4 linked regions of the Homo sapiens genome follow. The protein of the gene in region 3 interacts with the protein of the main gene of each other region in a pairwise test. Each region holds a gene or a part of one and is shown on either strand. Other genes may lie near its edges.

Region 1 (8,649 bases), on a different chromosome or scaffold from region 3:
ACAGAATTCAGTTTGGCAGGGTTTGTATTTTCAAAACCAATCTATTTTTTAAAAAAGTCTTTATACCATTATTAGCCCATCCTCTTTTTATGTAGGATAAGGTCGCATTATATAAATTTCCTGAAATTCTTCTTCATATGCATAAGTTTGCATTATACCAGTTGTCTAAAATTCTAAAAATATTCCCATTTTTTTTATTTATGACTTTTTTGCCATGTGTCAACATAGATGGAAATTTGGGGTATTTTTCTTTATGCCAAATCTTAATTTTATTACATTTTTAAGAAGCAGACACAATAGAGCATATCAATTGAGAGAATATCGTCTGCCTTCCGTGAGATCAGGGAATAACTATCAAAATTCCTATTGGCTTCAAAACCCCACAGTTACTTCTCATTTTTTCCTTTATGATTTTCCCCCAAATTTTCATAAATCAAAAAATCTCAAGAACACTAAGCCACTATAAACTTTAATGCTCATGTTTTCTTTCAATTATGGATTAATAAGATAGATTCCTTGAGTGAGGTAGGGGAGACAAACACATCAGCTGATAATTACAATAAAATATACATTATTATGGATTTTGAACAGAATGCTAAAGAGGAAGAGGATTAGTTAATTATGCCTGAGGGAGTCAGGAATGTCTTCCCAAGGAGATCACATTTGAGTTGAGTCCTGAAGAATCTGCCAGGTTCAGAAGAAGGATAAGGAAATTCGGGCAGAGTAAACAGCACAGCAAAGACTTGTAGACAAGAAAGGGTGTAGCAGATTTTGGGAACATGAGTTCAGTCAATACGAGATACAACAGAGGGGGTGGATGTTAGGGCGACAAAGGTAGTAGATGGAAAGGACTAGTGGGAAAGAGACTGAAAACGTATGATTATAATAGATTGTGAAGTGTCTGTTATACTATCCAGAGGAGTCGGTGCACTCTATGAATCAATTTACTTAAAAATAAAACTGTGGAAAGACTAAACCATAGGGAGAAACTCCAGTGTTAATCAGGTTACAGTTAATCAATAAACATGACACTTTAGTAAAAATGTTTATTTCTATATTATAGGTTTAGTCTTCCAACTGACAATACATTTTACATCGGAGTACAACTATGCTCCTCCAGTTGTGAAATTTATAACAATTCCGTTTCATCCAAATGGTAAGAACTAAATGACATTTTTATCATTAGAGGCTTTGTCCCTATTATCCTTGTTTCTTATAATAATCATGTTTCTTTTTAAGAACTTTATTATGATTCTAAAAGTAAGAACTCTCATTGGGGAAAATATGAAAAGGCTGGAAAAAATTAGCAATCACCTTAAATCCTAATGCAAAGAGAAAATACTGTCAACATTTTGCCAAATTTATTTTCCTTTTTTCTAAGTATGAATTTTTTCTATACAGTTGAGGTATTATGCATGAAGTTTTGCCTCTAGGTTTTTGATTTTATTTATTTTATGGTGTTTTTTTTGAGACAGAGTCTCTCTCTGTCGCCCAGGCTGGAATGCAGTGGTGTGATCTCGGCTCACTGCAACCTTCACCTCCCAGGTTCAATCGATTCTCCTGCCTCAGCCTCCCCAGTAGCTGGGACTACAGGCATGCGCCACCACACCTGGCTAGTTTTTGTATTTTTAGCAGAGATGGGGTTTCACCATGTTGGCCAAGCTGGTCTTGAACTCCTGACCATCCGCCCACTTTGGCCTCCCAAAATGCTGGGATTACAGCTGTGAACCACTGCGCCTGGCCTAGGTTTTTAATTTTAAAACTATATGTCTTTTTTCTGCATTATTAAACAGTCTTCAAAAGATCATCTTAAATGGTTCAACAATACACTTAACCATTTCTGTATTGTTCAATATTTTAGTTGGATCTAATTTTTCATTATTATAAAAAAACGATGCACTGGACAGATTAACTTTTTTTAAATAAAAGGTAAGTTAGATTGCTACTTAAAGTTATACACAAAACCAATTCCTGAAGGATCAAAAATCTAAAAATTTTAAATGCTGGAAAAGAAGGAAATCTAATAGAATTTTTATGGGCTTGGTGAGGAAGACGTTTCTCAGCATGATAAAACCCAGTAACTGTATGGAAAATATGACACATTAAACTGCAAAACCTGTTAAAACTTCTCTACGGCCCAGGACATTATACTCAGAGGTCAAAGACACTGACTTTTGCAAACTGAGGGAAAATATTTGCAATGCATGTAACAGAATATGTATACCATATGAAGAACACTTGTCAATCAATATAAAAAGAACATAAAGCAATTAAAAAATGGAGAAAGGCTATAAACAAACACTGGACAGAATAAACAACAAAAATAAACATAAAAAGATTATCAATCTCACTACTAAGAAAATAAAAGCAAATTAAAACAAAAAGTATTGTTATTTATCACATATTCATAAAATGTCAAAATATAACATACATATTTAGTAGGCATGGGCAGACATTGTTCCTCTGATATAATCATGACCTTTTGAGGAAGTAGTGTGACAGTTTCTAATCAGGTATAAAATGCATATATCCCTAAATTCCCGTAATACCATGTTTATAAACTATTCTGTAGAAATATTAGCACAAGTGTGCAAGAGTGTGTTATATTTAAAGACGTTTATTCCCACCAGGCTCAGTGGCTTATGCCTGTTATCCCAGTACTTTGGGTGGTCAGTGGGGAGTATTGCTTGGGTCCAGGAGTTTGACACCAGCCTGGGCAACATAGTGAGACCTGTCTCTACAGAAAATAAAAAAATTAGCTTGGCATGGTAGCATGTGCCTGTAGTCCCAGCTACTTCAGGTCTGAGGTAGGAGGATTGCTTGAGCCCAGGAGGTCGAGGCTGCAGTGAGCCATGATTGTGCCATTGCACTCCAGCCTGGGCAACAGAACAAGACGCTGTCTCAAAAAAAAAAAAAAAAAAAAAAAAAAAAAAAAAAAAAAAAAAAGATGTTTATTCCCAACAGCAATGTTAGAAATAGGAAAAATGGAAATAACTTCAATCTCCATTAACACAGGAATTTTAAGTGAAATATCCTACAGTTACGTGTATTGCTTCTAAACAGAACGAGGAAGGTCTACGAACCTTTTAGGTCTAGATCATTGCTATATCCTTAGAATCTTCACTGCGTGGCATATAGTAGGTATTCAGATATTTTTTGAATAAATATTTGTGTCCAGAAATATGTTGAAAATACATTGTTAAGTGAAAAAATACATTGAACAATAAAATGTAAAATATATTCCCATTTAATAAACACACACATATGGGTGTGTATACATATATGTGTTTGTGTGTATATTTGTATAGACCAACTGGTAATATTGGTCTTGAATAGTAGAATTAGTAGGCAGGGGAACATTCATATTTTACATTAGATTTTTTATGTTTTTTTCCCAAGTACATTATTTTATTGTAATTAAAACCTATTTTTGGTATCTATAACACAAAATTAATTACATACGTGTGCCTTTATTTGTTTAAAATAGTTAGAATTATTGGATTAAATTCAATGGGGGGAGGTACTCTTATCCCCTAGTCCTCATCCCTCCCACTTCCATAAAGTAGAGGGAACTTTAGTCTCTAGGAGGGGGAAGGTATAGGAAAACTTGTGACTGCTCTTTTTTTTTCCCCCATCACTCCTCCTAGAAGTCACTTATCTGATTAGGGAGATGAAGGAAAGAATTGAGCATATGTGGCCCAGAACTTGCTCAACACTCTCTCCTTCTGACCATACTGGGTATAGTCTCTTTTGCTCCAGGCAGGAAACTTAGGCAGGCCTTCGGTTTGGGAGTTAAGTTTAAATCAGGGGGACTTTTGTGGAGCCTGATTAAAGCCATTCATCAAGTGCGTTCTCCATTTCAGTCTTATGTGCAATGAAGCTGATGTTTTTACTTCCACCTTTCAATACTTTGATCTATTTTATAATTACATATGAACTTGAGGGGAGAGAAGGGTTATTTACTAGCTTTCAACCCCCGCCCCCGCCCGCCCCGCAAAAGATGGCTATGTACAGTTTTAAGTCTTTATATAAAAAGCCAAATTGCCTTTCGGTGGTATTTGTACTCCTACCAAAAAGTACATATAAAGTTCTTATTTTAGCACCTTCCAATTCTGGCCATTGAAACTTTGAAGAAAATTTTTTTGCCAATTTGGTAAGAGTCTTGCTATTATTTTAATAAGCACTTCTTTGAATACTTGAGAAGTAAACATTTCCCACCTTTGTTGATTCTTATTTTGTGACTCGTATGATACAATTGACAGTGCTATCACATTGTCCTAGATGTTGCAAATATTTCCTCTAATTTGTCATTAATTTTCAACTTTGTTTATGCTGTTTTTTCACATCTGGGATTTAGAGATTTTTATGATTTAAAATAAATTTATATTTAAGATCTATTAATCTTGTCCTTTGAGGCTTTTGCAGTTGTCTTTCATCTTAGATGATCCTTTCCCAAAAGAAAATCAAATAGTCATTTTAAGTTTCTTCTAGTCATTCTACAGTTTTATTTTTCTTATTTAACTCTATTATTTTTTCAAACACTAAATTACTTAACTGTGTTAGGGCATATGCCAAGCTCCTGTACATCTTTCCAACTTAACATAACAGGACAACGCTGGAGGGAGGTTGTGCCCATCCTCAATGTGAAGATTCCATTTCTGGGACTAAGGCATTTACTGTTTGTCACCATTTCCAGTCTGGGGGAAGGGGGAAGAAAAGAAGGAAAGCCAGCTTCCTTTAAAAAAAGACTCAGAAATTGCACACTTATCCTTATGTCCCACAACAAAAACTTAGTCACAAGGCCACATCTTGCTAAAGGAGAGGATAGGAAAAACTGTAGGGGCACCTATGTATTCAGCTAAAACAACATGGTAATGGGTGGGAACCAGGGATGGGTATAGTGCTTCTCAGTACAGAGAGAAGAACTAGGAAAAAGGAAGAGTAAATGCAGATAATTTTTCTGGCTTATCATTTTGATGTTTGTAAGTTTTAAATAATAATTTATTATAAATGCAAATATTAATGTATTATTTTAATACAGTAGACCCACACACTGGTCAGCCCTGTATAGACTTTTTGGACAACCCTGAGAAGTGGAATACAAACTATACATTGAGCAGCATCTTACTTGCCCTACAGGTAAGAATGGATTTCATATAATCCTCTCTTTAATACTTTTAATTACCCTAATTATTCAAACTACAAGGATTAAAATATACAATGCATATTTAAGTGTTTAAAGAATTTGAGAAGTTTATTTAAATCCATACTTCTATATGAAGGCTACAAAGTGGAACTTACTTAAATTATAAAAACTATTATTTAAAGTGAAATTGATAGTTAAGGCCCCTCAAGACCAAAGAATGCATATCTTATAAAAGAATAAAATAATTATTTAGATGGTTTCAATTCTGAAAATATAACCTTAGGTTTTCTTTTGGTTCCTAACTTCACTTCCTGATGTTGAGCAAGCCTTTTAGATCTTTCTTCATTTATGGACCTTGCCTTCCTGAGAGAGGTGGATCGAATGACTACAACTTAAAATGTTCACTTTTGTTTTTTGTTTCTGACAGTGCTAGTTAGCTACTTTCTGTCCCAATAGTGTTCACATCAAACCCAGTGAACAATTTATACCAAGGATTTTCTCCTCTCCTCAGATGCCTGTTTCTCAGATGCCACCTTTACCCACTGGACCCATGGTCCTTAGAAGCATACCTCAGTGTTGTGCTATTTCTTTTCTTTTCTTTTTTTCTTTTTGAGACAGGATCTTGCTCTGTCACCCAGGCTAGAGTGCAACGGCACAATCCTGGCTCACTGCAGCCTCAACCTCCTGGGCTCAAGTGATCCTCCCACCTCAGCCCCTCAAGTAGCTGGGACCACCGGCATGCCCTACCATGGATGGCTAATTTTTTAAATTTTCTGTAGAGACGGGGTCTCACTATGTTGCTCAGGTTGGCCTCAAACTCCTGGGCTCAAGCAATCCTCCCACCTCAGCCTCCCAAAATGCTGGAATTACAGGCAAGAGCCACCACATCCACCCAGTGTTGTGTTATTTCTGGTCCTTAAAAATGCCTCCTTTCTCATCTAATGCTAAAATGAATTATTTCAGTGAACTTGCTTTGACCTCTTAGAGCTAGCTTAGCAATAATCTATCCATGACCTACTTATCACCAATAATATCTGAAGATAAATAATTACATTTTGATTATCTAGAATACTTGGAATATAAAATACTCTGGCATAATTGAGTTTTTAAATATAGAATTATAATATAAATTGCATTTCTTCTATTTCTTGTATTTGAAAATAAATAAAATAATACTTTCCTGGCTAGTCATCTTAGCATACTAAGTAAAATATAATCTTTAGGAAAGATTCAATGTTCAGTTCATTCATTCATTCTACAAATATGTATTGAGGATCTACTTGTGTGAGGTTGTGTTCTAGGAAGGAGACATTTGAGCAAAAAATTTAAGGGAGTGAGTGAGTGTGATATGCAGAAATCTGGGGTTAATCCTTTGGATTCCTTTAAACTGAGACATATTCTGATCTCATCCACCTAAACTAGAGTCTGCCCTAAGAATAGCAAAATGATCCCAAAATGTAATGAGTAAGGGCAAACCAGAATGAACTGGTGAAAATTTTGAATTGCAGAATAATTTGATAAAAGGAAAATGTGGGGCTCTGAGTTAGCTTGCTTGGCTTCACATCCTGGTTCTGCCACTTGATACCTTTGTATCTATCATTGGACAAATTTTTCCACTTCTCAATGTCTCAATTTCTTCATCAGTAAAATGGGGCTGTTGTTACCTCATGTAACCTGTGAGGAGGAAATTAATTAATGTGTGTAAAGAATTCGGAACTGTGCCTGGTCCAAGAAAATAACTCAATAGTTAATACAGGTCGAGTATTTCTTATCTGAAATGCTTAGGAATTGGAAATTTTTCCAATTTTTGAATATTTGCATTACATATACTTACCATTTGAGCATCCCAAATTTGAAAATTTGAAATCTGAAATACTCCAGTGAGCATTTCCTTTGCACATCATGTCGGTCCTCAAAAAGTTTTGAATTCTGGGGTATTTAGGATTTCAGATTTTCAGATTTAGGATGCTGAACCTCTAGTTAGTTAACATTATGATTGTTCTTACTATTAAAGAGTAATGCAAAGTGACACCAAAGTGTTGCCAAATATATCATGGAAAGCCAGTAGATAACACAATTTTGTCTTTTTATTTTTCGAAAACATTAATAAAACAAATATGCCCACATTACAAAAGATTTTTAAGATAATGGGAAGGAAAAGAAAATCACTGACAATTATAAAGAAAACCCTTAACTTTACTGTTACTAGGAAAGAGCTTTCTGCTCTTTTCTCCTGTTTTTCAGTTTAAAATCTTTCAGTGGATCCCACCTTCTCCACAGGTGTAAGCTCTAGTTCTGTTGCATATCTAATCCTCACACCTAGACTCTCCCTAACACACCAGGCAATCCTGCTCATACTTATATCTTCATGCTTTTCTGCACTCACATTGCTTGGGTCAATTCAGATAAAAAAAACATTCATAGAGTTCTAAAGTTACCTTAGAAATGGTCAGTCTCCAGTTCCCCTCTGCCTGGCAACTCATTTTCTCCTCTTCTCTTCCTCAGTCTGTCCAGCAAGCAGTTGTTCATGTTGTTGTAAGAGTTGGAACAAATGAATCGTCCTCTAGGATACCTTTTCTGATTTATTTTCCTAGGGAGAATTAATAGCTTTGGTTTTGGGGGAGCTTCCTTTGCTACACACCCAACAGTACCCTGAGCAGATTTCTGTTAGAACACTAATACTATAAAGCACACACTGCTTACTTATCTGTCTTCCCCTATTGGACTGCAAGCTCCCCAAAATCAGGAAACAGGTCTAATTCATCCTTGATTTCCTGGAGCATACCAAAGACAATGCTGACATTTGGTAGATATTAAATAAAATGAATGAATGAATGAACCTGAATTTTTACATTATTGCTATTATGGTATGTATATTGCCATGTGCTTAGCAACAAGGATACATTCTGAGAAATGAGTTGTTACACATTTCATCGTTGTTTGAAAATCATGGAGCGTACTTACACAAACCAAGATGGTATAGCTTAATACATACGAAGGCTATGTTATAGCCTGTTGCTCCTAGGCTACAAACCTATACAACATGTTACTGTACTAAACACTATAGGCCATTGTAACACAATGGTAAATATTTGTGTATCTAAATATAGAAAAAGTACAGTAAAAATTTGGTATTATTATCTTATGGGACCACCATGATATATGCCGTCTGTTGTTGAGTGAAACATTGTTATGTGGCACGTGAGTATGTAAACTATACAGCCTGTTTCTTTTTCACTTAACATTGTCTCTCAAGTAACTTCCATATGGTTATAATCAATATTTTAATAGCTATTCAGTATTCCTTTGAAGGTCAGTGCTGCGCAGTAGCACTTTCTGCATTGATGGAAATGTCCAATATATCTCACCGTTCAATACAGTACCTACTAGTCATATGTGGCTACTGAGCACTTGAAATGTTACCACTGTGACTAGGGAGCTGAATTTTTAATTTTATTTAATTTTAATTATTTTAAATGTAAATAACCACCTGTGACTGTGCC
Region 2 (5,790 bases), about 17 Mb from region 3:
AAGAACACAAGCCAGAGGAGCATCTGTGACCTGTGCTTTTCCAAAGAGGGTTTGGGAACTTTAATATTTAAAGAGTAAAGTGCAAACACGGAGAAGGAAAAGAGGATAGAGGGTAGGCAGTGAGGCAAATGGTTCTATTCAGGGGAGGCTTTGGTTAGTGTTCAGTAAATCCAAATTTTATAGGTAAAAAGAGGGAGTAAAGGAAAAGTCAATTATGTGTTCATTGCAGGGTAGACAGCACGATGATTTCTGGTCTTGCCCGCGTCCTGTGCCTATGAAGACAAGCTGGTAATTGACATCATCAGGGTGAAATTCAACATAACTCAGTTTTAGGGCTATTTTATAGGAGGGATATGTATCCTAAAAGATAGGGTCTCACAAGGATTTTCCTTGGGCACAATTGTGAGGGAGGTCATTTGGGGAGATATGTGGCCTTCTATCATTGTGGGAACCTGGTTTATGGATGAGGCTATCACACAAGATTGTGAAGTTACGGCTGTTAGGGAACAAAAGGAAGGCAATATTGAGTAATTCAGCTCTGAAGCTTAACTTGCCCTTTGGCATAGTGAGCTTGGGGTCTTGAAATTCTATTTGCTTTCACAGTTGTAACAAATGTACTACTTTAGTGTGGGATGTTGAATGGGGGAGGCTATCATGTATGGAGAAGTTATATGTGAACTCTCCATACTTTTTGTTCAATTTTGATGGGAACCTAAAACTGCCCTAAAAAAAATAAAGTTTAGTAATTTTAAAAAAAGAACTAGACTAGAACACGCTCTGAGACTGCCCTCTTGGGGTTACGTGTGAAAACAAACCTCTCCAAGAAAGAGAACACAGGGCCGGAGGGCCTGGCATTCAGTAGGGATCTGCAGTCCGTCCACCACATGCTAGCAACTGCACATTTCATGAAGAAGCTCAACAAGGAAGAAAAAAAGGAACTAAAGAAGCCTCATCAATTAAAAAGAGGGATTTGGACAAAGAAAATCCATGCAGGTGCCAACGCAGAAATAGTATTTTCGTTGATGAAGATTTTTAACTTACCAAGAGCTATGAGATAGCTACCACTTTTTGAATAAGCTTTAAAAGAAATAGATGGACACTTGCAGAATATAAATCTTTTGTGTTCTATAAGCCTCCATTTAAAAATAAAAATAACTTCAAACATATCCTAAGTAATGAAAGCAGGGACATGAAGAAACATTTGTACACCCATATTTATAGAAGCATTATTCACTATATCCAAAAAGTGGAAGCAAACCAAGTAGCCAGTGATGGATGAATGGGTGAGGAAAAATGTGGTACATATTTATAGAGTGGTCCCCCTATCCAAGGTTTTGCTCTCTGTGGTTTCAGTTACCTGTGGCACAGTATAATGAGATATTTTGAGAAAGAGAGAGACCACATTTGTATCGCTCGTGTCATAATATATTGTTATAATTGTTCTATTTTATGATTATTGTTGTTAATCTATTACTGTGCTTAATTTATAAATTAAATGTTATCATATGTATGTGTGTATGTATAGGAATAAACACAGTAATCAGGTTCAGTGCTATCAGTGATTTCAGGCATCCATTGGGGGTCTTGGAACATATTCCCCAAGGATAAGGGGGGACTACTCTATAATGAATATTATTCAACCTTAAGAAGGAAGAAAATTGACCCATGTTGCAACATGGATGAGGCTTGAAGACATTATGCTAGATGAAATAAGCACAAAAATACAAATACTGTATGATCCCACTCCTAGGTCCTTCGAGTAGTCAAAATCAGAGACAGAAAGTAAAATGGTGGTTGCCAGGCATTAGAGGAAAGATAAATGCGGGATTATTGACTAACGGGTAAAAAGAGTTTCAGTTTTGCAAGAAAAAAATTCTGTGGAAGGATGATGGTGATATTTGCACAACCATGTGAATGTACCTAATGACACTGAACTGAACTTTAAAATGGTTAAAATGGAAAATTTTATGTTATGTATATTTTACCATAGTTTAAACAGATAACTAAAAATGTGTGTTCTAATTCATGTGAATTCTCAAAAGAGGCTATATCTAAAAGACAGATTCGTGTTTCATGTTCCATGAAGCTTAGAAATTGGAGTGAGAGACTGATGAAACATGACAAGTGAACGCATCTGAAAACAACAAAGTTTCACACAAATGTATGGATTTTATTGACAAGTGATATTTTCTTACAGTAATAAATATAATGCAGTCTTCTTAAGAGTCAGTTTGGAGTTGAGAAGGCAGTGTACCCTTGATGGAAACAGTCAGACTGGTGGTACCATCTTCTTCAGAACTGCATCTAAGAGGCTGTGCTGGCTGGGAATCATACAGCTGTGGGCAACAACTGCATCAGCCCCAAGGCTTCCCTCCAGACCAAAAGGTGATTCATGGCCCCTGGTTAATATCACCCTAGGTTCTCCCCTGTCCCAGTTTTAACATAATATTTCATAGAAATACTAGTGCCATAAAAAGTCAATATTTCAAATATAAAAATTATTTTATACAAATGTAATTCATAATCATTCTTTTAAAATACAGCATTGTTATATATGTTTGAAACATTATTAAAATAAATATTTCCTAGAGAAAAAATTTTGCTTCACAAAATTATAAAACAGAAGCATATAAAACTAATTCATGATTGGTGCTTCTTCAGTGTGTCTCTCATTCTCTCTTAGTGTAGACAGCATGAAGTACATACATCTAGCCTGAAAACATACCACCATCAACCTATACATCTAAATGCTTGGACTTCATGTGTGTCTACCCACAGTGCCCATGGCCTATCTACTTACACACCCTCTACCTGGAGCTTCTGTGGAAAGAAGGGCTGTCCTGTGACAATTTGCACTAACATACTTTTCCAGCTAAACTCTAGTTCAAAGGTCTGTGAGCTTGTCACTTTCTGGAGTTGGGAAAAGGCATATCAACTTCTTCATCAAGGGAACCATCCTGTCCCCTGTGAAAGATTATAACAGCCCTTTCCCAGGTAAGGGATGTATTGTGATTATCTGAAATATTGAGATTTTTGGTAGACCTGGACAATACTAACCCTGATTTCCAGGATCTGGAAGTTCTCTTTCCTGACTGCTCACTAGATGTTGAATGGGGCATATTTTGATGTGCAGTCTTGTGGTTCCTGTGGTATTCTAATACTTGCTTGGAAATGAGATAGTTGGAATGCTTAGCAAACAATATAGTTGTGTTTCTAAACATCATGGGGAGAGGAGAGAAAAAGGAATACAAGCTTATATAAACCGCTGAAGTTTCCAGTTATCATTACTTAATCATAACCCTAAGAAGTATGATTTCAGTTCTTCTCCAACACTACAAATTAACGAGTTTCACTAGACAATAAGCTGATCAACTAGGCTGATTGACATTTAGAGCTGCCTTTCCAATTACTAGCACATGGCAAGGGTTTTCAGGAAAATCTGGCTTGCAAAACACAAGTGGTAAATCTTCAAGGATTTGAAGTACCTTTCACACAATTTGACTATTGCCAGGAAGCCATTTATCAAGACCCATATCAGTGTCCTCAATTCCCCTTACCAAATGTTTCTTTTTTAAAAAAAAACTTAATTCATCCTTGTTTTCTGAGGCAGAGGTAACTGTTCCACGAGCTCCAATTCCATGAGGTGACTGTCCCACGAGCTCCAATTCCATGAGCAAATGTCCCATGTCAACATTTATGCTGCTCTCTAAAGCCTTGTATCTTGCACCTCTTCTTCTGTCTCCTCTTTCAGAGCAGCAATCTGGGGCTTAGACTTGCACTTGCTTGAGTTCCGGTGGGGAAAGAGCTTCACCCTGTCGGAGGGGCTGATGGCTTGCCGGAAGAGGCTCCTCTCGTTCAGCAGTTTCTGGATGGAATCGTACTGCCGCACTTTGTTCTCTTCTATGACCTAGGGAAATGGCTGTTAGTGAGATCTGGGACAGAAGGCAGGTCAGACCAGAGCAGGGACAGAAACTGGCACAGGCTCAAAGGAAAATAAAAGTCAAAGAATGCAATGTCCAGAGCCTTGCATTTTGAACAATCAGGTATGTCACATTTAACTGCTGTGTCCTTTTGCTCTAAGGAGGTTCTACCATCTGTGAAATTAGTTGTGATTTTCTACTCAGCAGCTGGAAGATTCTTCAGGGAGGTTTAGTAGAACTGAAGTTGCTTTGAAAACAAAATATTAGGTCCCTTATAAATTACCTAGAAAATGAGCGTAAGTCTACAGCACCATAAAGAGTTGAGCCTCTTCCACAGTGATCTGAAGCTTAAGAATTCCAAATTGGTCAGGATGTGCCTGAGTTTAATACACCTCCTTGGCTTGTTCAGGTTGAGCAAATCCAAGATCAGACAATAGAGGACTTTACTTAGATTCTTGAACTTGTCCATGGCAGGGCAAGAGGTTGTGAGTCTGCCCCCCTAATTTGTTACTTCAAGCTTAGTGATAATCATGGTAATAACAAGCCTTCAGTAAGGAAACCATTTACCTCCAGGAGGCTCAAAAGCCTGAACAGAAATGACGTGATACATCATCCTCAGAACTTCCTTGTGACTAAACCATAGGGAATTTGTAAACATCACTTGAAAGAAGCTGTGACAGTTTTGTTTTGTTTTAATAAAGACAGATGGGGCCTCACTATGTTGCCTGGGCTGGTCTTGAATTCCTGGCCTCAAGTAATCCCCCCACCTCAGCCTCCCAAAGTATTGGGATTACAGATGTAAGCCACTGTGCCTGGCCATGTGACAGTTTTTTTAAGAACAGTGAGAAGGTGGTTGAGAAAGGTACTACCTGAACCCAAATCATGGCTAGAAAAATGAAATGTGCCTCTCAACTTTGTCATTAATACCATAAATCAGACTGTAAGACAACTAGGCCTGTCCCAGACCACATCCATGGGACATTTAGTTATTGAAAGAATCACAGGGACCTTTTTTAAAATCTTAAACAGTAGAGTATTTTGTATGACTTGGTCCCCAAATAAAGGGCTCAAAAAGTATATATATCCTATTTATAAACATAACTTAGTAATATGCTGCCATTTTAGATTTACTATATTTCAACCTCACCACATGGCTCAGATCAAAGTGAAAAACTTGTGCAGCTATTTTGAGTAAAGCTGGATGGCTGTATGATACATATTTTTGAAAAGAACTTGTACATTGTTGCAATTTGCAGGAACTATCACATGTGAGATTGTTATCAAGAATTACAAGGGCAATGAGATCTTAAGTAAAGTTATAAAGACTCACCAAAAATTGTTGGCATTCCAGCATTGCTTCTATCCTGTGTTCACAGAGAATTACTGTGCAATCAGCAAATGCTTGTTTTAGAGTTCTTCTAATTATTTGGTATGTTCTAGAAAAGAAAGAAAATACCACACATAATATCACAGAACAGTAATGATCTGTATTTACCTTGATAATATGTCTATTGTTCTATTATCTCTTTAAATTACTTATTTCTTTAAGTTCTTTTCACATAATGTTGATATAGCGTTAGCCACAATCAGCTTTTCAACCATGGGGTAGACTCTAAGTATCCATAAATAAACAGGACAAATATTTCAAAGAAACTTTAATAAATGAGTACATTTTTCATTATGTAGAATCACCAGTACTTCTTTATTTGGGGCTATAAACATGCTTATGGTATAAATGGGATACAAAGGCAAATCATAAGGATCAGATTAGGCCCATGTATTTAAAAGCTTCATCATGTGTTGACAAGGGGGAAGAGTTTGTATGAAACTAAAAACTATCTTCGGAAGAAAACACAAGACTCTTAGCAAG
Region 3 (9,580 bases):
TAAACAGGAGCTAAACATTGGGTACTCATGGACATAAAGACGGCATCAATAGACACTGGGGACCACTAGGGGGAAGAAGGAAGAAGATGGGGCAAGGGTTGAAAACTATTAATACCTAATGGGGCCAGGCATGGTGGCTCACGCCTGTAATCCCAGCACTTTGGGAGGCCAAGGCAGGTAGATCACTTGAGGCCAGGAGTTCAAGACCAGCCTGGCTATCATGGCGAAACCCCATCTCTACTTAAAATACAAAAATTAGCCAGGTGTGGTGGTGCACACCTGTAATCCTAGCTACTTGGGAGGCTGAGGCAGACGAACCACTTGAACCCAGGAGGCGGAGGTTGCAGTGAGCTGAGATCGTGCCATTGCACTCCAGCCTGGGCAACAGAGCAAGACCCTGTCTCAAAGAAAAAAAGAAAAAGAAAAACTACCTATTGGGTACCGTGCTCATTACATGGGTGATGGGATCAATCGTATTCCAAACCTCAGTGTCACACAATTTACCCATATAACAAACCTGCACACGTACCCCGTGAATCTAAAATAAAAGTTAAAAAAAACAAAAAAAGAGGCCGGGCACAGTGGCTCACGCCTGTAATCCCAGCACTTTGGGAGGCTGAGGCAGGTGGATCACGAGGTAAGGAGATCGAGACCATCCTTGCTAACACGGTGAAACCCCGTCTCTACTAAAAATACAAAAAATTAGCCGGGCCTGGTGGCACGTATCTGTAGTCGCAGCTACTCAGGAGGCTGAGGCAGGAAAATCACTTGAACCCAGGAGGCAGAGGTTGCAGTGGGCCGAGATTGCGCCACTGCACTACAGCCTGGGCGACAGAGCGAGATCCGGCTGAGTGCGGTGGCTCACACCGGTAATCCCAGCACTTTGGGAGGCTGAGGCTGGCGGATCGCTTGAGGCCAGGAGTTCGAGACCAGCCTGGGCAACATGACAAAACCCTGTCTCTACAAAAAAAAATACAAAAAATTAGCCAGGCATGGTGGTGTGCACCAGTAGTTCCATCTACTGGGGAGGCTGAGGTGAGAGGATCATCTCAGCCCAGGAGGTCGAGGCTGCAGCAAGCTGTGATTGCGCCACTGCACTCCAGTCTTGGTGACAGAGTGAGACCCTGTCTCAAAAAAAACAAAACCAAAAACACCAAAAAAAATTTTCTCCATAGGCACTTCAAACCTAAAACTTCCCAATCTTAAACTCTTGATCTTCCTCCCAGAATATGTTCCATCTCAAATGTTCTGCTCGAAGTAAACAATACCTCCAGGCCAAGCACTGTTATTTTTTCATTTTTGTTTGTTTGTTTTGTTTTGTTTTGTTTTGAGACAGGGCCTGGCTCTGTCACCCAGGCTGGAGTGCGGTGGCAGAAATTCAGCTCACCACAACCTTTGCCTCAGGAGTTCAAGTCATCTTCCCACCTCAGCCTTCCGAGTAGCTGGGACTACAGGCGCACGCCACCATGTATTTCTTTCTTTCTCTCTCTTTTTTTTTTAACGACGTAGTCTTGCTATGTTGCCCAGGCTGGTCTTGAACTCCTGGACTCAAGTGATCCGCCCACCTCTGCCTCCCAAAATGCTGGGATTACAGGTGTGAGCCACCACGCCTGACCCTAATCCATATTTCAATGCCCATCTGCCTCCTCTATAGATTGCAAGCTCCATGAGGAGGGTGCACCTGTCATTCAAGGTTGCATCCTCATTGCCTAGGGCAGTGCCTGATACATCATCCGGTTCAGTAAATATCAACGGAATGAGTTAAAACAGGAAAGCTTATTAGCACAGAAACCAAAGCAGCACACATGCCCTCTTGAGATTGACAAAATTGTGCTGTAGTCCTGCGCTGCTTGTTGTTAAGTGACTTTAGGGAAGTCATCGTGGCCATCTACAGATTGAGGAAATCAACGTAATTATCTCTGAGGTCCCTCCCAAATTCTCATGTGTAGTTGACATCTGTTATCTATTGCTTATATGTCACTGAATTGGCAGGTATGCATAAATAGAATTTGCATCTAACTACGAATACGATTGTTTATATTTTCTTTAAAAAAATATTGGGCTTTTGTTTCTCATATTGAGAGCTCTGTTATGCCATTTTCGAATTTCTCCCAGATGTCCCCCCCGGCCCACCTTCAAACTCTGCTTCCTTAGACAGATTTGGCAATAGCTTTGTAAGTGATATGGACATAATTGCCTAAAATAATGAAAACCTACAGGATTCTTTTTTCATTTTCCCTTTGGCATGTTTACAATTCCCTGCCCCACCAGGCAGATCATTCTGTGTGTGTGAGTGTGTGTACCCATTACAAAGACAACTACTATGTTCATAACATATTCGATTTGGAAAAAACAATTGTAGGCTGGGCACGGTGGCTGACATCTGTAATCCCAGCACTTTGGGAGGCCGAGGCGGGCAGATCACGAGGTCAGGAGTTCAAGACCAACCTGGCCAACATGAAACCCCATCTCTGCTAAAAATGCAAAAATTAGCCAGGCCTGGTGGCATGCTCCTATAATCCCAGCTACTCGGGAGGCTGAGACAGGAGAATCGCTTGAACCCAAGAGGCAGAGGTTGCAGTAAGCCGAGATTGTGCCATTGCACTCCAGCTCTGGGTGACAGAGCAAGACTCCATTTCAGAAAAAAAAAAAAAAGAAAAAAGAAAAAACAATTGTTTTTGAAAAGTGATTTGTAATGTCTTTCACAGAGACTAAATGAAGAGTATGTTTTGATACTTTTTAAAATATAATTTCATCTTTTTAGATTCTGACTCATGTGCACATGAATGTACCCATGTACATGGGTATATCTTGTGATGCTGAAGTTTGGGGTACAATTGATCCCGTCACCTGGGGTACAGTACCCAATAGGTAGTTTTTCAACCCTTCCCCCCTCTAGTAATCCCCCGTGTCTATTGTTCCCATCTTTATGTTCATGAGTACCCAGTGTTTAGCTCCTACTTATAAGTGAGAACATGCAGTGTTTGGTTTTCTGTTCCTGCAGAAATTTATCCACTTAGGATAAAAGCCTCTAGCTGCATCCATGTTACTGCAAAGGACACGATTTCTTCTTCTTTTCTTTTCTTTTGTTTCTTCTTTCTTTCTTTCCCTTCCTTCCTTCTCTCTTTTCTTTCTCTTTCTCTCTCTCTCTCTTTTCTGCATCCATGTTGCTGCAAAGGACATGATTTCTTCTTTTTTCTCTCTTCCTTTCTCTTTCCTTTCTTTTTTTCTTTCCTTCCCTTCCTTCCCTCCTTTTCTTTCTTTTACTTTTTCTTCTTTTGTCTTTCTTTCTTCTTCTTGAGTCAAAGTCTTGCTCTGTTGCCCAGGCCGGAGTGCAGTGAGTGGTGTGATTTTGGCTCACTGCAACCTCCGCCTCCCGGGTTCAAGCAATTCTCCTGCCTCAGCCTCCTGAGTAGCTGGGATTACAGGTGTGTGCCACCACGCCCAGCTAATGTTTGTATTTTTAGCAGAGACGGGGTTTCACCATATTGGCCAGGCTTGTCTCAAACTCCTGACCTCAAGTGATCCACCCGCCTCGGCCTCTCACAGTGCTAGGATTACAGGCGTGAGCCCCATCTCGTTCTTTCTTATGGCTGCGTGTTTTGATACTTTCAAATTACAAGGACTCAGTGAAGGCTATTCGTTGCCTTGAACTTCCCAAAGCATTTCCACAATCGATGGGGTTCTCAGTAAGAATCCGGGACTTGGAGGGCAGATGCTGTCAACATCCCCATTTAACAGATGTGGAAACTGAGGCCTAGACCTACGTTCTTGTCCCTTTACAGGCAAGGTCCCTGGAGGAAGGGGTTCATCTAGAGGCTCATACAGATAAACTGGAATGTACAGTAAAGTTTTGGCTGCCTGGGTTCATATCTAAACTCTGCAGCCTCAGGTCTCTTTCCACTATTAGAAAATGGGGAGAAGGCTGGGCGCGGTGGCTCACGCCTGTAATCCCAGCACTTTGGGAGGCCGAGACGGGCACATCACCTGAGGTCAGGAGTTTGAGACCAGCCTGGCCGACATGGTGAAACCTCGTCTCTACTAAAAATACAAAAAAAAATTAGCTGGGCATGGTGGCGGGCGCCTGTAATCCCACCTACTCCAGAGGCTGAGGCAGGAGAATCGCCTGAACCCAGGAGGCGGAGGTTGCAGTGAGCCGAGATCATGCCACTGCACTTCAGCCTGGGCGACAGAGTGAGACCCTGTCTCCAAAAAAAAAAAAAAGAAAAGAAAAGAAAATGGGGAGAATGTTAGCACTTAATTTCCCAGTATTGTGAGACTTAACATATGTCAGCCTGGGCAGCATAGCAAGACCCCACCTCTACCAAAAATTTAAAAATTAGCTGGGCATGGTGGCTGGGGCACGCCTGTGGTCCCAGGTACTAGGGAGGCTGAGGCAGGAAGATCACTTGAGCCGAGGAGATTGAGGTGGCAGTGACCTACAATCGCGTCACTGTACTCCAATTAAAAAATAAGTGTCGGGCCAGGCGCGGTGGCTCACGCCTGTAATCCCAGCACTTTGGGAGGCCGAGACAGGCAGATCACGAGGTCAGGAGATGGAGACCATCCTGGCTAACACCGTGAAACCCCGTCTCTACTAAAAATACAAAAAATTAGCCGGGTGTGGTGGCACACGCCTGTAGTCCCAGCTACTCAGGAGGCTGAGGCAGGAGAATCGCTTGCACCCGGGCGGCGGAGGTTGCAGTGAGTTGAGATAGCACTCCAGCCTGGGCGACAGAGAGAGACTCCGTCTCAAAAAAAAAAAGTGTGGCTCTCAATAAATGAGTTGTTATTTCAGTGGCAAGCCCTGAAAGGGGGTCTACAAAGGCCCAGTGGGCGAGGCTGAGGAAATGCCTGGACACGACCCTTCTCATGGCATTCCCGGGGCGCCCGCATCAGCCCCTACCCACTCCCGCTCGGGGACTTTCTCGGAATCGCGCTTCTTCTTCCAGCAGCCTCGAGGCCGGCCCCGTCCAGGTCTCTTTAGCTCCGCCCCCTGGTGAGGGGCGTGGCCTCCTCAGGGCCGGGGCGTGGCCCAACCGGGAACTGGGGCGTCGAACTCCCCTTCCCAGTCTGGAGCCACCCATTCCAGGCGGGGCGGGAGGCTGATCACGTGACCAGCGAGCGGTCTCACCCTCCTCATATGCCAGTACCACCTCCTCCAGTCCCAGAGGGGGGATGTCTTACTCCTTTCCGTGAAGCAAACCCTTTGAGTACGGTTTGCGTCCACAAAGCGTAGGGTGAGAACCTTGGGAGCGACTGGGCCCGTCTTTGCTCCCTCGGTGGGGTTTTGTCTCCTGGCTTCCCCCAAGTGCGAGGCAGTTGGTCTCGCCCAGCCGGGTCCTGGGCGCGGCGGCGGCAGCCGCGTCACTGGCGGGCGGGATCCCTCCGCTCTGGGGAGGCAGCGCTGGCGGCGGGGCTGGGGCCACTGAGGAAATCCATCCGCGCCGCCGCCGCCGCCGCCGCCGCCGCCGCCGCCGCCTCCGCCGCGGAGGAAGACAGCGCCGCCCGCGCACCGCCAGCGACCTCCGCCGCAGAGTCCCACCGCCACAGGTACCTTCGCTGGCAAAAGGAGTCCTCTCGCCCCCCAGCCCCAATTTCCCCCAGGGGAACCTCTCTTCCTTCGGTCTCCCGGGGCTGGCCTCCTGGGAGCGGACGTAACTCCCCAGACCTCCGCTCCCTTCCCCTCTTGCCCGGTCGCTCCCAAACCCGGAAGGGGAACTGGGGAACCCTCGCCCCCCACCGTGCGTGCGCTTCCCCGCACCATCAGCGAAGTTTTTGCCCGACCCCAGACCCCAGCCCAGCCCCGACTGCCTCTTGCTCCCTCGGAAGTTGGGGGGCTAAATTCCGGGCTTCCTCTAGGCCCCGCCCCGCCCCCTTTCCCCACCGCCACCCTCCCGCCTGCCCCCGGGGAGCACCCCTCGTGTCCTCCACTGTCGCACCCCTGCCGGCCCTCGCCTTGCACAACTCCAAAATCGGGGAGAAGCAGGCAAGGCCGCGCGCCACCCTTCCTTTCGTCTCCACCCTACCCACGATTTGGGTGCTGCCCGTGGTTTCTGGCCCCACTCGCCGAAACTGGAGCCCTCGGCGCCCTATTCCCTTTACAGATCCTCACCCCAAGCCCAGCTCCCAGGCGCCCGCCCCCCGCCCAGCTTTCTTTTAGGCAAAATGGAGGTCGTAGGGGCTGGAGGGCCAGGCCCACTGCGCTTCGCAGCGCCGCACCAGCCCGCGCCTTCCAGCTGCCAGATCCAGGGACCCTCCCGTCACTCTCCTGAGCCCCGCCAGACCTGCGGAGGCGGTTGCACCCTCATTTCTCTATGGAGCGCCGGCTGCTATATCCCTAGAGTCTGGGGGCTGCTGAGGGCCCTGGGGGGTGATGGGGACCGAGGGCTGAGAACGTCGCCCCCGCCCCCAGTTTCTTCCTCCAGCCGTGCTTCCTTCTGCCCTGGGCCTCCGGCGGTGCCGCCAGGCCTGGGCTGCTAGTAGGTGGAAGAGGCTTTGTGCGGGCCTGGGGGTTGGGTAGAGTAAGGAGTTCTGCCCGCACCCCCCATCCCCCGATTTTGAGGGTCACCCCTTGGCACTGGCGTAGAAAGCTGAACTTACAAGGAGGGGAAATGTCAGTGGGGAAGAGGAACGCCCTGCGCCTGGGGGAAGTGGGAGCTGGGTGGGGGACGCCTGGGCCGGCCAAGTGCAGTGTGTACGGCCGGATCGCACAGGTGTCCCGCGGGCGGGGAAGGACTCAGGCTCCCGGAGCGGAGCCAGCCGGGCCCCTGGGGCCCGGGCGCCGAGCCTGCGGGCTGGGCCCCCCGGGTGTCCAGGGCGCCGCGGCCAGGCCGCCTGGGGCCGCCCGCCCGCGCCTGGGAGAGAGCACCTCCGCGCCTCGGGGCCGGGGACCTCGTTGCGGAGCCGTAATTACTCGAGAGCGGCTCCCACGGGCTTTCTGCGGGCGCGGCGGGGCGGGCGGTCCCTGCGCTGGAGGGAGCAGCGGCTCGGGGCTGCCTTCCCCGCCGCTGTCACCCCCACCCGCGGCGGACGGCTAATGGGGCGCAGCCGGACCGGGGATTATCCGGGGTGAGCCGTCCAGAACCTATTAGCGCCCAATCGGCTTTTCCCAAATCCTGTAAACAGCCACCCGGGCCGGTTCTGGGGAGGGCGGGAGGCTGGGTCGGGCGGGGGCGATGGGGCCGGGGGTGGGGTCACCCACCCTACAGGTCTCTGCCGTGGATGCGGTTGCCTTGGCAACGGGGCTAGGGTGGGGGCATTTCACCAATGAGGTGCTCTCGGTCCGGGTGACGGTTGCCTAGGCAACCCCACGAACAGCCCAGCTTTCCCCTCTGGTCTCTCCCCCCACCCGCCACCATCGAAGCTGGGGGTGTGTGTGGAGGGTGTGCGCCTTGTGGGGTGAATTTCAAGAGGCACCGCCCCTTTTAAAATTAGGTGCTTGGAGGGCGGTGCCTGTGCGGGCTGGGGCAGAAGCCAGGTCTGTTTTCGAAGGGACACCCCCGCCCCCCCCGCCCCAGTTCCTGCCGCGGGTGTCCTGCCCGGGCTGTGTCCGAGGGAGGGGTTTCCCCTGCGCTTCCTCTTGCACTTCCCGCTCCGTTTCCGGGGGGCGGGAGGAAGATTGGGGAAGTCGGCTCTTACTCGGCGACGTCTCTGGTGCCGGAGACCCTGGTTGTGCCCGGGGACGGCGGCCGCGCCGCCCCTTCCCCCTCCCCTTGCTTACCCCTTCCGGGCCGCGCTGCAACCCCGCCTTTCTCCCCACTTCCCCGGCGGCCTCGGGCCTGACGTCAGCCCTGCATCCCCCAGGCCTCGGGCCAGCGGCCAGGAGCTGCCTCCCCCAGCCCCCGTCCCGCGGCCCCCAGCCGCCCCCAACCCTGCCCCACGGGCCCGGCGCCATGAGTGAGCTGGAGCAACTGAGACAGGAGGCCGAGCAGCTCCGGAACCAGATCCGGGTGAGGGCCTGGTGCGGGGCGGGCGATTCATGTGTACACCGCCCGGTGCCCTGGACCGGGTTGGGTGAGGGTGTTGGTGGGGGAAGGGGGAGGGAGGGCCCCTTAATGGCTCAGAATCTGACCCTGTCCACTCCTGTCTTCTGTTCTCTTCTCTCCCTTTCCTCCCCAACCTGTCTTCTCTCGCGTCTCTCTGGCTCTGCCATCCCTTACAGGATGCCCGAAAAGCATGTGGGGACTCAACACTGACCCAGGTGAGGGCACTTGGTGGCCAGAGCGTAACTAGGGGTTGAAGGGGCAAGGATCAGAGGCCGCTGCCCTCTGCAGTCCTGCTGCCTGGGCCTCCCCGAGCGCATTCTGTCTCTACCTCCAGATCACAGCTGGGCTGGACCCAGTGGGGAGAATCCAGATGAGGACCCGGAGGACCCTCCGTGGGCACCTGGCAAAGATCTATGCCATGCACTGGGGGACCGACTCAAGGTGTGTGTGTGTGCGCGGGCTGGCGCTGTGGGCCGACTTTCTAGCAGGCCGTGGGAGCAGCCTCAGATCTGGCGGAGTAAGCAGGCCACCAAAATACCCAGCGTACGTCTGGAAAAACGGTGACTCCCAGACATGTCCGCCAGACCTGGACAGGCAGGACCATGCTGGTGAGAACTTGTGGGCTGCAGCTGGAGACTGTCTCTCAGGTGGCTCACGCCTGTAATCCCAGCACGTGGGGAGGCCAGGGCAGGATCACTTGAGCTCAGGAGTTTGAGACCAGCCTGGGCAACATAGTGAGACCCTGGCTCTACTAAAAATTGAAAAATGAGCTGGGTGTGGTGGTGCTCACCTTGTAGTCCCAGCTATGCGGGGGAGGCTGAGGTGGGAGGATCACTTGAGCCTAGGAGTTCCAGGCTGCAGTGAGCTGTGATGGTGCCACTGCACTCCAGCCTGCACAACAGAGAGAGACCCTACCTTCTCCCACCCAAAGGGAAGGGGGTGTGTCTTGTTTTCACGCCACCCTTCTGCTCTCCCTACACCGTTCCCCACCAGGCTGCTGGTCAGCGCCTCCCAGGATGGGAAGCTCATCATCTGGGACAGCTACACCACCAACAAGGTAGGGTGGCGCGGGCTGCGGGGTGGGGCAGGGCCACAGGGCCCTGGCTGGCTCTGACCCCGGCGCTTCCCCTGCTCCGCAGGTCCACGCCATCCCGCTGCGCTCCTCCTGGGTAATGACCTGTGCCTACGCGCCCTCAGGGAACTTTGTGGCCTGTGGGGGGTTGGACAACATCTGCTCCATCTACAGCCTCAAGACCCGCGAGGGCAACGTCAGGGTCAGCCGGGAGCTGCCTGGCCACACTGGTGAGGGGCCTGGCCCAGTTCGGGCCCTTTTTGGGGTTGGGGGGTGCACTGCCCTCCGTGTGGAGACCTGGCTGACCAGCTCCTTCCCCAGGGTACCTGTCGTGTTGCCGCTTCCTGGATGACAACCAAATCATCACCAGCTCTGGGGATACCACCTGGTGAGGCTCTGCCAGGGCTGGGCAGTCTGGGCAAACCCACACTTCCTGCCTCAGGGGCCACCGTCCCAGTGCTCAACATGCAGCATGCACCGTAGCCTCCCTCTCCTGGTGGGCGCTAAGGGGGTCAGGGAG
Region 4 (7,193 bases), on a different chromosome or scaffold from region 3:
CCTTGTGATCCGCCCGCCTCAGCCTCCCAAAGTGCTGGGATTACAGGTGTGAGGCACCGCGCTTGGCTTTTTTTTTTTTTTTTTGGAAACAGAGTTTCGCTCTTGTTGCCCAGGCTGGAGTGCAGTGGCGCGATCTCCGCACACTGCAACCTCCCCATCCCGGGTTCAAGGGATTCTTCTGCCTCAGCCTTCCGAGTAGCTGGGATTACAGGCATGCACCACCACGCCTGGCTAATATTGTATTTTTAGTAGAGACGGGGTTTCTCCATGTTGGTCTGGCTGGTCTTGAACTCCTGACCTCAGGTGATCCACCCGCCTTAGCCTCCCAAAGTGCTGGGATTACAGGCGTGAGCCACCACACCTGGCCTCTTGCTCTTAAGAATTCTACAGCCTGACTGGGCATGGTGGTTCACGCCTGTAATCCCAGCACTTTGGGAGGCTGAGGTGAACAAATTGCTTGAGCCTAGGAGTGCAAGACCAGCTTGGGCAACATAGTGAGACCCTATCTCTTAAAATAAAAAAGTAGCCAGACCTGGTGGCATGCCCGTAATCCCAGCTACTTGGCAGGCTGAGATGGGATCACCTGAGCCCAGGAATTGCAGGCGGCAGTGAACTGAGATTGTGCCACTGCACTCCAGCCTGGGTGACACAAGAGACCTTATTTCAAAAAAAGAAAAAAAGAATCCTCCAGTCTGTTGGCAGAGTTGGCGGGGCACCCACCTGCATCACAATCAGACCGTGGAGACTGGACTTTGGGGTGTTGAGGTGCCTTGGGACTCCTGAGTGCCCTGACCCTGTACCCCTCCCTCCACTCCAGAGGGGACCCCATATGCTGGAGGTCTGTTCCGCATGAAACTCCTGCTGGGGAAGGACTTCCCTGCCTCCCCACCCAAGGGCTACTTCCTGACCAAGATCTTCCACCCGAACGTGGGCGCCAATGGCGAGATCTGCGTCAACGTGCTCAAGAGGGACTGGACGGCTGAGCTGGGCATCCGACACGTACTGCTGGTGAGTTCTGGGCTGGGGCTGGGCCTCCTGCCTCCTGCCTCTGGAGGTCTGCTGGTGTCTGAGCCATAGCGCTTTGTTTAGTTTTTCTGAATCAACTCTGAAGTGGTTGAAGGTTTCCACATAAAAATCCATGTTGCTAGCTTTCCTGGAAAGACAAACAGTGCCAGACCCAGGACACCCAAGTACTGTTGAGAAGTGCCCAGGAGCACCTTACTATGCAACGAGTGGTGAGTTTGTATTGTAGGATGGTTTTTCTCTTCTCCCTTTTTTTTAAAAAACAAGGATAGGGTAGGCCAGGTGTGGTGGATCACTTGAGCTCAGGAGTTCGAGACCAGCCTGGCCAACATGGTGAAACCCTGTCTCTACTAAAAATGCAAAAATTAGCCGGGCATGGTGGCACATGCCTGTAATCCCAGCTACTTGGGAGGCTGAGGCAGGAGAATCGCTTGAGCCTGGGAGGCAGAGGTTGCAGTGAGCCGAGATCGCGCCACTGCACTCCAGCCTGGGTGACAGAGTGAGACTCTATCTCAAAAAAAAAAAAAAAATAAGATAAAAAATAAAACAGGAATGGGGTCTCATTTGTTGCCCAGGCTGGTGTCAAACTCCTGAACTCAAGTGATCCTCCCACCTCGGCCTCCCAAAGTGCTGGGCTTATAGGAGCCAGCCACTGCGCCTACCCTGTAGGACAGTTTTCTGACAGGTGGAGGTCAAGGGTCTAGTTAGAAGCTCTTTCTTTCTTTTCTTTCTTCTTTCTTTCCTTTTTCTTTCTTCCCTTTCTTTCCTTTCTTTCTTTTTGTTTTAAAGATACTGGCTCTTTGTTGCCCAGGCTGGAGTGCAGTGGCGCAGTCATAGCTCACTGTAGCCTTGAACTCCTGGGCTCAGGTGATCTTCCTGCCTCAGCTTCCTGAATGGCTGGTATTACACGCATGCACCACCATACCCAGCTAGTTTTTATATTTTTATGGTTTGCAGAGATGGGGTCTCATTAGAGGCTTTTTTGCTAAAGCTGAGCTTACATGCCGTAAAACTCAGTTCCAAAGTATACAGTTCAGTGGTTTTTTAATAGCGATAGGGTTCATAAACCAGTGTTTCTCAGCCAGAGGTGATTTTGCCCCCCAAGGGGTATTATGCATTGTCAGGAGACCAGAAAGGGTTGTCACAACTCGGGGGTGCCACTAGCATCTAGTGGGTGGAGGCCAAGGGTGCTGCCCAAATCCTGCAGCGTACGAGATGGCTCCATGACACAGAATGACCTGGCTGCGGTGTTGCTGAGGTGGAGGCGTCCTGGTCTAGGCTGGTGCTCCAGGCTGCTTACAGCCTGCTGCCTCCCAACCCTTCCCGCAAGCTGAAAAAAAAAAAAGTTAACCAAATTTCTAATGAGTCCCTGGGGCACATGGCAGAGAGGGTGGGGAATTGGGGTTTCCTGCCATGGGGAGGGAGAGGATTGAGCTCCAAGGTAAACAGACCCCAAACCCTTCCCTCCCACATGTACCGCCTCCCTTCCCCTGGGGTGTCATTGGAGGCTGCTGGGGACATTGGCACCGAGCTCCAGGCCTACTTGCTGCTAGGTCAGCATCTGGGCCTGTCAGGGGCTCAGCCAGCAAGAAGAGCAGCCAGACCTGCAGTTTGGGTGCAGTGATGAGAATTAGGGTGGGAACCTGTGTCCTGGTCACCATCAGTGATATCTGCTGAGCATCTGCTGAGCCAGGTACTGTGTATGTGTCATAGTGGCCCCAGGGAGCAAACTGCTGTGGCCAGTTTGCCCAGACCCACTTCAGAGGATCCAGCTGGGGCTGCTGGAGGCCTGGCTGCAGGTCACACCTCTGCACTCCAATTTACCCCTCAGGACGGGCTGTGAAGGGGGTTGAGAGGAATCTCTGGACCACCCTCGAAGTGCACCTCAGCCAGCAGTCCTGGTGTCTTGCCCTCTTGTGTGTGGTCCAACCCAGCTAGAGTCTTAGGCTGTGAACTTCGGATGTCTGATAAAAGACAGAGGTCAGGATTTATGCTGTATCTGGAAAGATGGGGAGCTTTAGAGTCCAACACGCAGGTGTGATTTCCTCAAATCCTGAGGCCCTGGGGAAGTCTCTTCTCTCTGTCCAGGCTGCAGGCCTCACTCGTTGAACCAGAGGGCCTCTAAGGTCATGCTGAACTGCATGGAGGCAAATTCAAAACCATAATAGGACTCAAGTCTGGGGCTCAGGCAAGTAATGGACTCCTGAGAGGGGGCCTTGGCGTTTCCCCCGTTACCCAGCAAGTTCCACGGAGGACCAGGGACATTTTAAACCATTGGGCCTATGGCATCGTGTCCTTTTGGGAACATCTGCTGTGAGGCAGGTCACATGAAGGTGGCCTCTGAGGGAGACAGGAGCAAAGATGAGGGAGGATGCAGCATAGGTGGGGCCTGGATCTGCAGCTGAGTTGGGAGCAGAAGGAACAGCCAGTGCGGAGGCCACCCTCTTGTGGAGGCCTGGGGGTCCCTGTAGGTTGCCCGACCCACTGTGACCCTGAGCCTCTTCCCACAGACCATCAAGTGCCTGCTGATCCACCCTAACCCCGAGTCTGCACTCAACGAGGAGGCGGGCCGCCTGCTCTTGGAGAACTACGAGGAGTATGCGGCTCGGGCCCGTCTGCTCACAGAGATCCACGGGGGCGCCGGCGGGCCCAGCGGCAGGGCCGAAGCCGGTCGGGCCCTGGCCAGTGGCACTGAAGCTTCCTCCACCGACCCTGGGGCCCCAGGGGGCCCGGGAGGGGCTGAGGGTCCCATGGCCAAGAAGCATGCTGGCGAGCGCGATAAGAAGCTGGCGGCCAAGAAAAAGACGGACAAGAAGCGGGCGCTGCGGCGGCTGTAGTGGGCTCTCTTCCTCCTTCCACCGTGACCCCAACCTCTCCTGTCCCCTCCCTCCAACTCTGTCTCTAAGTTATTTAAATTATGGCTGGGGTCGGGGAGGGTACAGGGGGCACTGGGACCTGGATTTGTTTTTCTAAATAAAGTTGGAAAAGCAGCTTCTGTGTCTCACAGATGCCCCAGGACCGCTGCATGGTGCCATGTGGCTCTGGGAGTTTGGCTCCCCTGCACAGGCCCTGGGTCCTTGTAAAGCCTCATGGACTGCAGCAGTGGGTCCATCTAGCTCACCAGCCTTGCTGTTTGAGGTTTGGGTCCACCTCTTTGTTCTGTGGAGGTAGAGCGGTCACAACCCCTCTTTGGAGTCAGATTTCCAATCTAAAATGGGGCGAGGACCTGGAGCTGCTCCTGGTGGCCTGAGCGGCACTGCCCTATACTTCTCCCTCTAGAATAATGGCCACGTTGGTGTGGCAGTGGTGTTCCTGCTCAGGACGGCCAGGTGCCAGCAGTCTGGCATGAGGCTCGCCTCGTCTGTCTGGTTCTGGACTGGGCCAAGGTTCGGTCCCCTTGAATCATCTGATCCTGCTTTGTGCTAAAGATTGGTTTTTCCCTTGTGGGCAGCAAAGCCTGTTCCCACATGTATTTCTGCACAACAGATCACAAAGCCAGCGGCTTAAAACAACACCCACTTCAGACTTTGTGTTGGAAGTCTGGACACGGCTGAGCTAGTCTCTGCTCAGTGCTTTGCAGGCTAAAATTGAGGTATTGGTTGTTGGTGTTCCTTAGTCTGGGTCCTCTTCCATGCTCATGGTTGTTGGCTGATTTCAGTCCTCGTAGAACTAGGGTCTTAGCTCCAAGAAGCTGCCCCTCCTTGGGCCCTGGCAGGTCTGATTTAAGGGCCCATTCCCTTTGAGGTGCTCACCGGATTAGGTCAGGCCCATCCAGATACTTAAGTGATAATGACTAAATCACAGGGGTAAGATCCCAGCTTAGTCTTAGTTTCTGCCCTCAAGGGGAAGGGATTAACCTGGGTGTGCACACCAGGGGGTGGGGAAACTTCCCATTCTATTAATGCGTTTAGGTTATTTAGACCAATGTCTCATTAATTTTAAAAAAATTAAAAATAGGCCAGGCGCAATGGCTCACGCCTGTAATCCCAACTTTAGGAGGTGAAAGGATCACTTGAGGCCAGGAGTTAAAGACGAACGTGGGCAACACAGTGAGATCCCATCTCTACAAAAAGTAAAATACATTTACAATAAAAATCTACAAGTTCTGACCCATAGGAGAGTGGAAAACTCAAAGGCTGCTTTTGTCCTGAAAGAATTTGCCTATTCTAATAAAACAGCTGAGGTTGAAACGGCTCAGCCTCTGAAAGGGGTCTGACCCTTCCTTGAGCCCTTGCCTCCAGTGACAATCTCCCAAGCTAAGGGAGAAAAGGAACCAAAAGTCTGCACTCCTCTCTACCTCTAGCAGTGCAGGGAGCGAAGGAAAGACAAGGGAAGAAACCCTTCAGATTTTCAGATCAAATTCACATCACTGGCCATCCAAGAAATCTTAAGCTCTGCGTTTATCGTCAACCATTTCTGCATGAGGGAAGCAAACAGTCCTTGCTGAAGGAAGGTGCCTGCATCCTGGGCCTCGGAACCCACTGAAATAATTTAGCGAAGTGCATAATAAAAATAATATTTGCCCTTAGCCCTGACAGAGTTCCTCAATCCCTTGGAATCTCCTGGGTATTAATAGGAGCAGTCTTTGTCCTAATGAAGCCATCTGTGATGGGCCCCTGCGTAGCTTCAGGAAGGGGGTTGGTCACTAGAAATACCAAGACCGAATTAGACAGTTGGGAATTTCAGCCCCACCCATACCTACCAACCTCTGGGAAGAGAGGGGCTGAAGGTTGAGGTCAATGACCAATGGTCAATGATTTGTCTAATATGCCCATGTAATGAAACCTCCGTTAAAACACTAAACAAGGTTGGGTGGGGTGGCTCACGCCTGTAATCCTAGCACTTTGGGAGGCCAAGGCGGGCAGGTCACCTGAGGTCAGGAGTTCAAGACCAGCCTGGCCAACATGGTGAAACCCTGTCTCTACTAAAAATACAAAAATTAGCTGGACGTGGTGGTGCATGTCTGTAATCCCAGCTACTTGGAAGGCTGAGGCAGGAGAATCTCTTGAACCTGGGACACAGAGGTTTCAGTGAGCTGAGATCCTGCCACTGCACTCCAGCCTGGGTGACAGAGCGAGACTCTGTCTCAAAGAAAAGAAAAGAAAAGAAAAGAAAAAAATTAGCCAGGCATGGTAGTGTGCGCCTGTAATCTCAGCTCTTCGGAGGCGGAAGTGTGAGGGTCACTTGAGATGGGCAGGTTGACGCTGCAGTGAGCTATGATCGTACCACTGCACTCCAGCCTGGGTGAGAGAGGGAGACCCTTCCTCAAAACAAACCGGGCACGGTGGTTCACCTGTAATCCCAGCATTTTGGGAGGCCAAGGCTGGTGGACCACTTCACGTTGGGAGTTCAAGAGCAGCCTGCCCAACGTGGCGAAACCTCATCTCAACTAAAAATATAAAAATCAGCCAGGCATTGTGGTGCATGCCCATAGCCTCAGCTATTCAGGAGGCTGAGGCAGGAGAATTGCTTCAACCCAGGAGGCAGAGACTGCAGTGAGCCGAGATTGCACCACCGCACTCCAGTCTGGGCAACAGAGTGAGACTCTGTCTCAACACCCCCGCCACTCCCCTCAACACACGCAACAAAATGTATAAAGAGTTCCTACAAACGAATAAGAAAAAAACATGAAAAATTGGCAAAAACACTTGAACAAGCACTTCACAACACAGGAAATCCAAATGGTTACTCAACACATGTAAAGGTACTCAACATCATTAGTAACTGGAAAAATGCAAATGTAAACCAAGATTGATGCCATTATACTCCTAGAAAAACAACAATTAAATCTGAGAATACCAAGTGTTGGCAAGGTGGCGGAGCACTAGGAACTCCTATAGACTCCAGTTGGAACAGTGAGATGGTAAAGCCCATTTTGAAACTTTGTAGTCAAGTCAAAAGAACTCAACTTATTACTCAACAACCTTTTTGGTTTCGGTTTGGTTTTCATTTACATCGAGGTTCCCTTTGTTTCTATTTCTTCACAACCATCCATGCCGGGGTAACTCCTTCCTGCGTCTCAAGCCCAAATCCCACTCTAGAAATTCACATTCCCATTTCTTTCTTTTTGTTTTTTTGAGACAGAGTTTCGCTGTGTCACCCAGCCTGGGGTGCAATGGCACAATCTCAGCTCATTGCAACCTCTGCCTCACAGGTTTCAAGCGATTTCA

What was found.
Region 1: the proteins of GNB2 (region 3) and UBE2U interact in binary tests that used the Homo sapiens proteins (3 or more experiments, as listed by UniProt).
Region 2: the proteins of GNB2 (region 3) and CFTR interact in binary tests that used the Homo sapiens proteins (3 or more experiments, as listed by UniProt).
Region 4: the proteins of GNB2 (region 3) and UBE2S interact in binary tests that used the Homo sapiens proteins (3 or more experiments, as listed by UniProt).

Annotation. Positions count from the first base shown.
Region 1 is NC_000001.11:64,205,701-64,214,349, forward strand, and holds part of UBE2U (ubiquitin-conjugating enzyme E2 U), read left to right. Parts: coding exon 1-20; intron 21-1,063; coding exon 1,064-1,156; intron 1,157-5,041; coding exon 5,042-5,139; intron 5,140-8,649. UniProt on the Homo sapiens protein: Catalyzes the covalent attachment of ubiquitin to other proteins.
Region 2 is NC_000007.14:117,665,025-117,670,814, reverse strand, and holds the end of CFTR (cystic fibrosis transmembrane conductance regulator), read right to left. Parts: intron 5,357-5,790; coding exon 5,251-5,356; intron 3,908-5,250; coding exon 3,707-3,907; 3' UTR 2,150-3,706; downstream 1-2,149. UniProt on the Homo sapiens protein: Epithelial ion channel that plays an important role in the regulation of epithelial ion and water transport and fluid homeostasis. Mediates the transport of chloride ions across the cell membrane.
Region 3 is NC_000007.14:100,668,371-100,677,950, forward strand, and holds the start of GNB2 (guanine nucleotide-binding protein G(I)/G(S)/G(T) subunit beta-2), read left to right. Parts: upstream 1-5,369; 5' UTR 5,370-5,553; intron 5,554-7,806; 5' UTR 7,807-7,895; coding exon 7,896-7,952; intron 7,953-8,164; coding exon 8,165-8,203; intron 8,204-8,322; coding exon 8,323-8,429; intron 8,430-8,981; coding exon 8,982-9,045; intron 9,046-9,127; coding exon 9,128-9,290; intron 9,291-9,381; coding exon 9,382-9,448; intron 9,449-9,580. UniProt on the Homo sapiens protein: Guanine nucleotide-binding proteins (G proteins) are involved as a modulator or transducer in various transmembrane signaling systems.
Region 4 is NC_000019.10:55,398,103-55,405,295, reverse strand, and holds the end of UBE2S (ubiquitin-conjugating enzyme E2 S), read left to right. Parts: intron 1-817; coding exon 818-1,008; intron 1,009-1,148; coding exon of another isoform or gene 1,149-1,295; exon of another isoform or gene 1,296-1,333; intron 1,334-1,953; exon of another isoform or gene 1,954-2,164; coding exon of another isoform or gene 2,165-2,353; intron 2,354-2,638; exon of another isoform or gene 2,639-2,706; intron 2,707-3,533; coding exon 3,534-3,860; 3' UTR 3,861-5,551; downstream 5,552-7,193. Other genes in the region: RPL28 (large ribosomal subunit protein eL28), read right to left, coding at 2,165-2,353. UniProt on the Homo sapiens protein: Accepts ubiquitin from the E1 complex and catalyzes its covalent attachment to other proteins. Catalyzes 'Lys-11'-linked polyubiquitination.